2 separate regions of the Homo sapiens genome follow, and region 1 is reported to be linked to region 2. Evidence: microRNA targets listed by miRTarBase, many of them from high-throughput screens and not tested one by one. Region 2 holds a microRNA gene; the other region holds the end of a gene's coding sequence.
What was found. Region 2 holds the annotated microRNA hsa-miR-6738-5p (CGAGGGGUAGAAGAGCACAGGGG, at 2,152-2,174, opposite strand). A microRNA usually pairs through its seed, bases 2 to 8, with sites in the 3' UTR of a target mRNA and lowers its output. Matches are read on the target gene's strand: a 7mer-m8 pairs with bases 2 to 8, a 7mer-A1 pairs with bases 2 to 7 and ends in A, and an 8mer does both.

Region 1 (3,399 bases), not on the chromosome of region 2:
CCTGCCTCAGCCTCCTGAAGTGTTGAGATTACAGGTGTGAGCCACCGTGCCCAGCCTAAGCTGGCATGTTTTAAGGCAGTTACATCTCTAACTTGATTTACCAGCTATGCTTGAGGGTCCAAGGAGCCAAAATTGCAGCCAAACTGATCTTAAAGGACCAGGGAATAGAATGGTCAAGCATGTTTCCAAGTTTAACCTAGGCCTGGCACATCCTTGCCAATTGCTCAGATGGCAAGTGAGGGGCAACTAAGTGAAGAGAATAGCAGGAAGACCCACTTGGGGTGGACACTGATGAAAAACACAAGCAGTATCAGACTCACTGTTTTCAGGATTAAAATCCCCAGATGCCCTGTTATTGGTCTATGTCACTACCAGTAGGACAAAAGGCAATGCTTCTGAAGACTAGAATATGCAAGGAAAAAATTAAGGTGCCTGCCTGCCTGGGGCCTAACGAGCCAAACAGTGCTAATTTCATCCATGCCAAACAAAATTGTTCATTCCTTGCTGATTTGGGTTTTAAGGAACCATGCTGATCATCAGAGAAACCAGGCAATTCTATTCTGAAGCCCAGGGGAAGAAATGGTGGGGATTTCTGAGTTACAGATGGTGCAGGGGTTAACACTATCTGCCACTATGAAGGGAAAAATCTATCTTGGTAAACTTTGGTCTTCCATAGGACATGGAACCAGAGTAGCAAGATCAGGGCCTGCGTGACCGATCCTGATTGAGCAGGACTTCCTCACATAAGGTACACAAGAGCTGGGCGCAGTTGCTCATGCCTGTAATCCCAGCACTTTGGGAGGCCCAGGCTTGTGGATCACTTGAGGTCAGGAGTTTGAGACTAGCCTGGCCTACATGGTGAAACTCTGTCTCCATCTCTACTAAAAATACAAGAATTAGCTGGGTGTGGTGGTACATGCATGTAATCCCAGCTGATCAAGGGGCTGAGGCAGAATCACTTGAACCCAGGAGGTGGAGGCTGCAATGAGCTGAGATCATGCCACTGCGCTCCAGCCTGGGCAACAGGGTGAGACTGTCTCAAAGAGAAAAACAAAACCCATAAGATGCACAGGTATCTGAGAAGGGTCTAAACACCCTAGAACTGCAAGCAAAATTTTGAGTGTATACATGTTTTCCTGGCGAAGGGGTCCTCATTCTCAAATCCTGAGCTTTTAGGAAAAAGTACTAAGCCAGTTTCAGGTTACGATACAAAAGCCACCAGATACACTTAGAGCCAGTCAAGTTTGAGAATTCTCAAAGCCATCACTGAAAAGTTGGAACACATACTCACAGCAGAGACAAGTGAACATTTATTTTTATGCCTTTCTTCCTATGTGTATTTCAAGTCTTTTTCAAAACAAGGCCCCAGGACTCTCCAGATTCAATTATGTCCTTGGGCTTGGTCGACTGCTGCAGGAGTCTCAGGGAGCCTTCTACAAATGCTAGAGTGACTCATTTACCAACATTAAACCCTAGGATACATGCAACAAAGCAGGACTCCTTCCTCCATGGAATGTGCCGATTTCAGATGACACAGCACCCAATGCAGAAAACACTGGAATTTTTCCTTGGAACTCGACTGTGATGAGAGGTGCTTGACATGAACATATGCTACTGTCTTTTCTTTTTTTTTGAGACAGAGTTTCGCTTGTTGCCCAGGCTGGAGTGCAATGGCGTGATCTCAGCTCACTGCAACTTCCACCTCCCAGGTTCAAGCGATTCTCCTGCCTCAGCCTCCTGAGTAGCTGGGATTACAGGCACGTGCCACCATGCCCGGCTAATTTTTGTATTTTTAGTAGAGATGGCATTTCTCCATGTTGGTCAGGCTGGTCTCGAACTCCCAACCTCAGGTGATCTGCCCACCTCAGCCTCCCTAAGTGTTGGGATTACAGGCATGAGCCACCACGACCGGCCAGCTACTGTCTTTTCTTTGACCCTTTCCAGTTTCTGAAGATAAAGCAGGAAATAATCTTCTCTGAAGATACTTGATAAAAATTTCCAAAACAAAACACATGCTTCCACTTCACTGATAAAAAATTTACCGCAGTTTGGCACCTAAGAGTATGACAACAGCAATAAAAAGTAATTTCAAAGAGTTAAGATTTCTTCAGCAAAATAGATGATTCACATCTTCAAGTCCTTTTTGAAATCAGTTATTAATATTATTCTTTCCTCATTTCCATCTGAATGACTGCAGCAATAGTTTTTTTTTTTTTTTTTCCGAGATGGAGTCTCGCTCTGTCGCCCAGCTGGAGTGCACTGGTGCAATCTTGGCTCACTGCAATCTCTGCCTCCTGGGTTCAAGCGATTTTCCTGCCTTAGCCTCTCGAGTAGCTGGGACTACAGGCACGCGCCACCACACCCAGCTCATTTTTGTATTTTTAGTAGAGACAGGGTTTCACCATGTTGGCCAGGATGGTCTCAATCTCCTGACCTCATGGTCTGCCCGCCTTGGCCTCCCAAAGTGCTGGGATTACAGGCGTGAGCCACCGCGCCCGGCCAGCAATACAGTTTTTAGTTACTCGACATCTTTAAGCCTATAACTCTTAGGCTATGCATAGCCCCATGTCCTAATCAGGCATTCACTGATCCCAGCAGGTCTCCATCTATTTGTACCAGCCTCCTCTATTCCTCCCAATCTCAAGGTTACTCTTAAATACTAGTAAATGCAAAAAGAACTTGTAAAGTGGCAAGGCATGGCCTATCAAAAGTCAGCCCAAGGGCAGTTTTCAGCCCTGCCTCACCTGGGTCTAGTTCAGCTGACGGATGAGCTGATTGATGCGTTCACCCCGATAGCCAGGTGTGCCCATCTCCTTGAGGAAGCCCACTCTATTTTTGGTAGCATGACGGGCCACTGAGAGGTGGAAAGGGCACAAGAACCATGAGATCTCCTGGAAATGCTTCCCTGGGAAGGCAATTTCATGAATGAGGTCTTCCAAGCAAATGACGCCAAACTTCCCTAAGAAACACAAAAGCACAGATTCCTTTATTTAACATGTATCCAGCATATACTAAGCTGGCCACTCTGGCAGACTCTTGGGGCCCCAAGAAGAATACAACCTGAATCTCACATCAAAGCTTCAAAGACCCTGGCTTTCTGCCCCAGCTGATCCCTAAGCTGTAGCACTCACCCAGGTGCTCCTCAATCACTGTATTGTCTGTCAGAGGGATGGTCTTATTCTTGACCTTGGCTTGTCCACGTTTCAAAATGAGTTCTCGGACAGACTTCAGATTTGGAAATCTATGTAGGAAAATAAAGCACGGTTTTCACCAGCACCTGGCACACTACATACCAGTCCTGCAGCCTGGCTGAGAGGTTGGAGAGGTTCTCCCACACACTCACTTCTCCCAACGAGCAAGTGTTCTGCAATCACATTCCAGCTGAAATGCTTGGAAATA
Region 2 (3,399 bases):
CAGGAGAATCACTTGAACTCAGGAGGTGGAGGTTGCAGTGAGCTGAGATTGTGCCACTGCACTCCAGCCTGGGTGACAGAGTGAGACTCCATCTTAAATAAATAAATAAATAAAATAAAATAAAATAAAATAAAATAAAATAGACCGGGTGCAGTGGCTCACATCTGTAATCCCAGCACTTTGGGAGGCCAAGGCAGGCGGATCATGAGGTCAAGAGATTGAGACCAGACTGGGCAACATGGTGAAACCCTATCTCTTCTAAAAATACAAAAATTAGCTGGGCGTGGAGGCATGTGCCTGTAGTCCCAGCTACTCGGGAGTCTGAGGCAGGAGAATCACTTGGACCTGGGAGGCGGAGGTTGCAGTAAGCGGAGATCTCACTACTGTACTCCAGCCTGGCGACAGAGTGAGAATTCCATCTCAAAAAAAAAAAAAATTTAGCCAGGCGTGGTGGCTCATGCCTGTAATCCCGACACTCTGGGAGGCCAAGACAGGTGGATCGCGAGGTCAGCCGTTCAAGACCAACCTGGCCAACATAGTGAAACCCCATTTCTACTAAAAATACAAAAATTAGCTGGGCGTGGCGGTGGGCGCCTGTAATCCTAGCTACTTGGGAGGCTGAGGCAGGAGAATCGCTTGAACCTGGAAGGCAGAGGTTGCAGTGAGCCAAGATCACGCCACTGCACTCCAGCCCAGGCAACAGTGCAAGACTCCATCTCAAAAAATAATAATGAAATAAATTAATTAAATAAAATAAAAAAATAAATAAATGAATTTTTTTTTGTAGAGAAGGTGGGTCTCACTATGTTGCCCAGGCTGGCCTCAAAATTCTGAGCTCAAGCGATCCTCCTGCCTTGGCCTCCCAAAGTGTTAGGATTACAGGCCTGAGCCGCCATGCCTTTTTAAAAAAGAATCTGTTTTTACTTCTAAAGGTTGGGAATCACCAACCAGTTGGAGGAGAGAGGCCCCTCCTGCTTCCTAGACTTCCACCACCCATTCATCATCAGACAAAACAGGAAGTCCCTCCCTAGAGTTACTACAAGCCTCACAGGTCAGTTAGGGCCCATTTGGAAGCCACAGCCCAATGGCCTGTACCCAGGCTGCACTCTACCTCTGGTCCATGTCTCCGCCAGGGTCTCACCTCGTGGACTGTGGGGCGGAGACAGACGGCTGCTACCTTCCTCCTCGCTGCCAGTGTCAGGGTCACTGCTGTCTTGCAGCCGCTCTTCGGGGCTCCCCAGTTCCTGCCTCTCTCGGTCCTCAAAGTTTCGATGGACAGAGCGAGTAGTGACAGGTAGATCCAGGCGGTCAGTGCCTCGGCTGGGCTGTGGACAGTGGGCAGGAAGAACAGCAGGTCAGGGACTGAGTAGTGTGAAGATTGGAGGTTCTGCTTGGCTGAAGGCAGCAGCTCTCCCCCCTGGGGCTCACCCATGAGTCCCCTTCAGGAGATCCACCACCAACTGGCCTCTTTCAGCACCACGACCCGAGTTAATTTCCTCCACCCCTGCACCCATCTACATTTCTTTTCAGTTCTCCAACCAGTATCTCAATATCCTTCAAGTCAGTTGACTGATTGCATTTGGGCTCAAATCCCCAATGGCCCAATTTCTTTCGGGCTCCATGGACCCTTATGTCCACCCCAGGTCCATTCACCACTGCAGGCCACCTTACCTGTGGGGGGTTGAAACTCAAGTACAGGGCATCGCCTGCGGGGAGGCTGCGCCGCCGAGGATCCACAGGTCTGCGGGCCCAGGGGGCCTCAGCTGGGAGTGGCTCGGTCTGGCCCAGGGCGGCCAGCTGCCTTCGAGCCTCTTCGGCCTCACGCTCCAGCAGTGCCCGGGCCTGCTCACTCTCCCGGAGCCGGGCCTCCAGGCTGCCAGCTTCGGTTGCCCGTTCTTCACCTAGCCGCCGGCAGCGCCGTAGCTCCTCCTGCAGCAGCGCATGTTGCCGCTGCAGTAATGCCAGTTCCGTGGCCTGCTTTTCAGGGGCCACAGGGGCAGCCCCAGCCCTGCCAGCCTCCCCATCCCGAGAGTTGGCTCGGCACAGCTTCTCCCGCCGCTCAGGGCCCTCAGGGAACCGGGCTTCCATCAGAGTGTCCTGCTGGGCCACAGCTGCCTGGGAGTAGAATGCAGGCAGAAGGGTTTATCAGAACCCCTGTGCTCTTCTACCCCTCGCCTTCACCCTCCAAGGCCCAGATCATCGCTCCTGGAGAGCTTGGATTGGGAGGGTATTTAGAAAGGCCTGTTGGGATGACCATGCCCCACCTAAACAGGCATCTCTAGCCTGGCTCCTCCCCTTCCCCATTCAAGCCCTTGTCCTACTGACCTGTAGGCCATGTAGAAGTCCATAGAGATTGACCAATCGCTGTAACGCCTCCTGAGGACAGACAGGGTGGGAACAGGGCCCCAGCTTTAGGATGGGAGAACTGCCCAAAAGTTGAACAAGGGTGGGTGTGGGGACAGTAGGATCCGGAGACATACTTGAATGTAGACGCTTTCCCCACCCCACTCCAAACTGGGCTCTAACTACTCAGACTAAGAACATCCTCCCTTCAGTCTCCTATACCATCAATTCCCATCTCACCTCTTGCGGTGATCTCAGCTGATTTCCATTTCGATCCTGCAGAAATGGGCAAGAATGGGGAGTCAGCAGGCACACAAATCCTGGGTGCCTGCCCCTGACAGCTTTGTGTTGAGGATCCAGAGGCTGGCTGTCCCTCTCCCACCCTCTTGCCAAGTCCCAGAACCTCTTGAGGACCTACCCTCTGGCTAGAGTCTGAGTCAGCTCTGCAGAGTTCAATGGAGCCATTGAAGGTTCTGGCCTCACCATCTGTTGAGAAGGAGAAAAGGATGGCTGAGCTCACTTCCCTGGGGCCCTGATACCACTTGATCCCTGGTACCACTCTACTAACTTTGGCCCCTCCCACCTACTACCTTGGTCCCCTGCCCTGGTACTCACTGGCAGTGACCCCAGGACTCGTGTTACCACCGCTGTCTGGTTCCAAGGGCAGGGCTGGCTCTCGGGGTGTCAAGAGCAGTTCCACTCCTGGCCCCACCAGCAGGTCTTTCAGACCCTCCACTGTGGGGAAAGAGGAAGAGGTGAGAACAGGAATGACACAGGACCCTGAGGGGAATGCCATTCACCCCCACATGTGGGACACTTGGGCATCTGGGGGAATGCCCCCTGCACTGGCAGTGGGGTTTCACTCACACAACCACTGATGAGGTAAAGGGCAGTAAATGCCTACGAGGCAGCAGAGTCCATGCAGCATGGACGATATGGAGCAGCAGCAAGGACCACACCTCCTCCCCTGCCTTTCCCAGGAACTGGCCCAGAAGAGGCACTCAGGGCCGTTTATGGTTTATAGGGTTGGCATCCCACTTGTCTGTGTTTGTCCAT

Region 1: miRTarBase lists RPL7L1 as a target of hsa-miR-6738-5p. Seed matches in the 3' UTR shown: 7mer-A1 at 237-243.

The regions. Positions count from the first base shown.
Region 1 is chr6:42,885,816-42,889,214 of GRCh38, reverse strand. RPL7L1 (ribosomal protein L7 like 1) reads right to left here. Exons shown (of 6, transcript NM_001366481.3): 5 at 3,132-3,241; 6 at 1-2,959. The coding sequence ends at 2,751. Among named protein-coding and RNA genes, the nearest start is that of PEX39, 3.3 kb to the left of the region's middle.
Region 2 is chr1:155,949,158-155,952,556 of GRCh38, forward strand. MIR6738 (microRNA 6738) reads right to left here and starts at 2,179; the gene lies at 2,116-2,179. ARHGEF2 (Rho/Rac guanine nucleotide exchange factor 2) reads right to left here. Exons shown (of 22, transcript NM_001162383.2): 16 at 2,959-3,078; 17 at 2,762-2,829; 18 at 2,584-2,619; 19 at 2,326-2,376; 20 at 1,672-2,115; 21 at 1,142-1,325.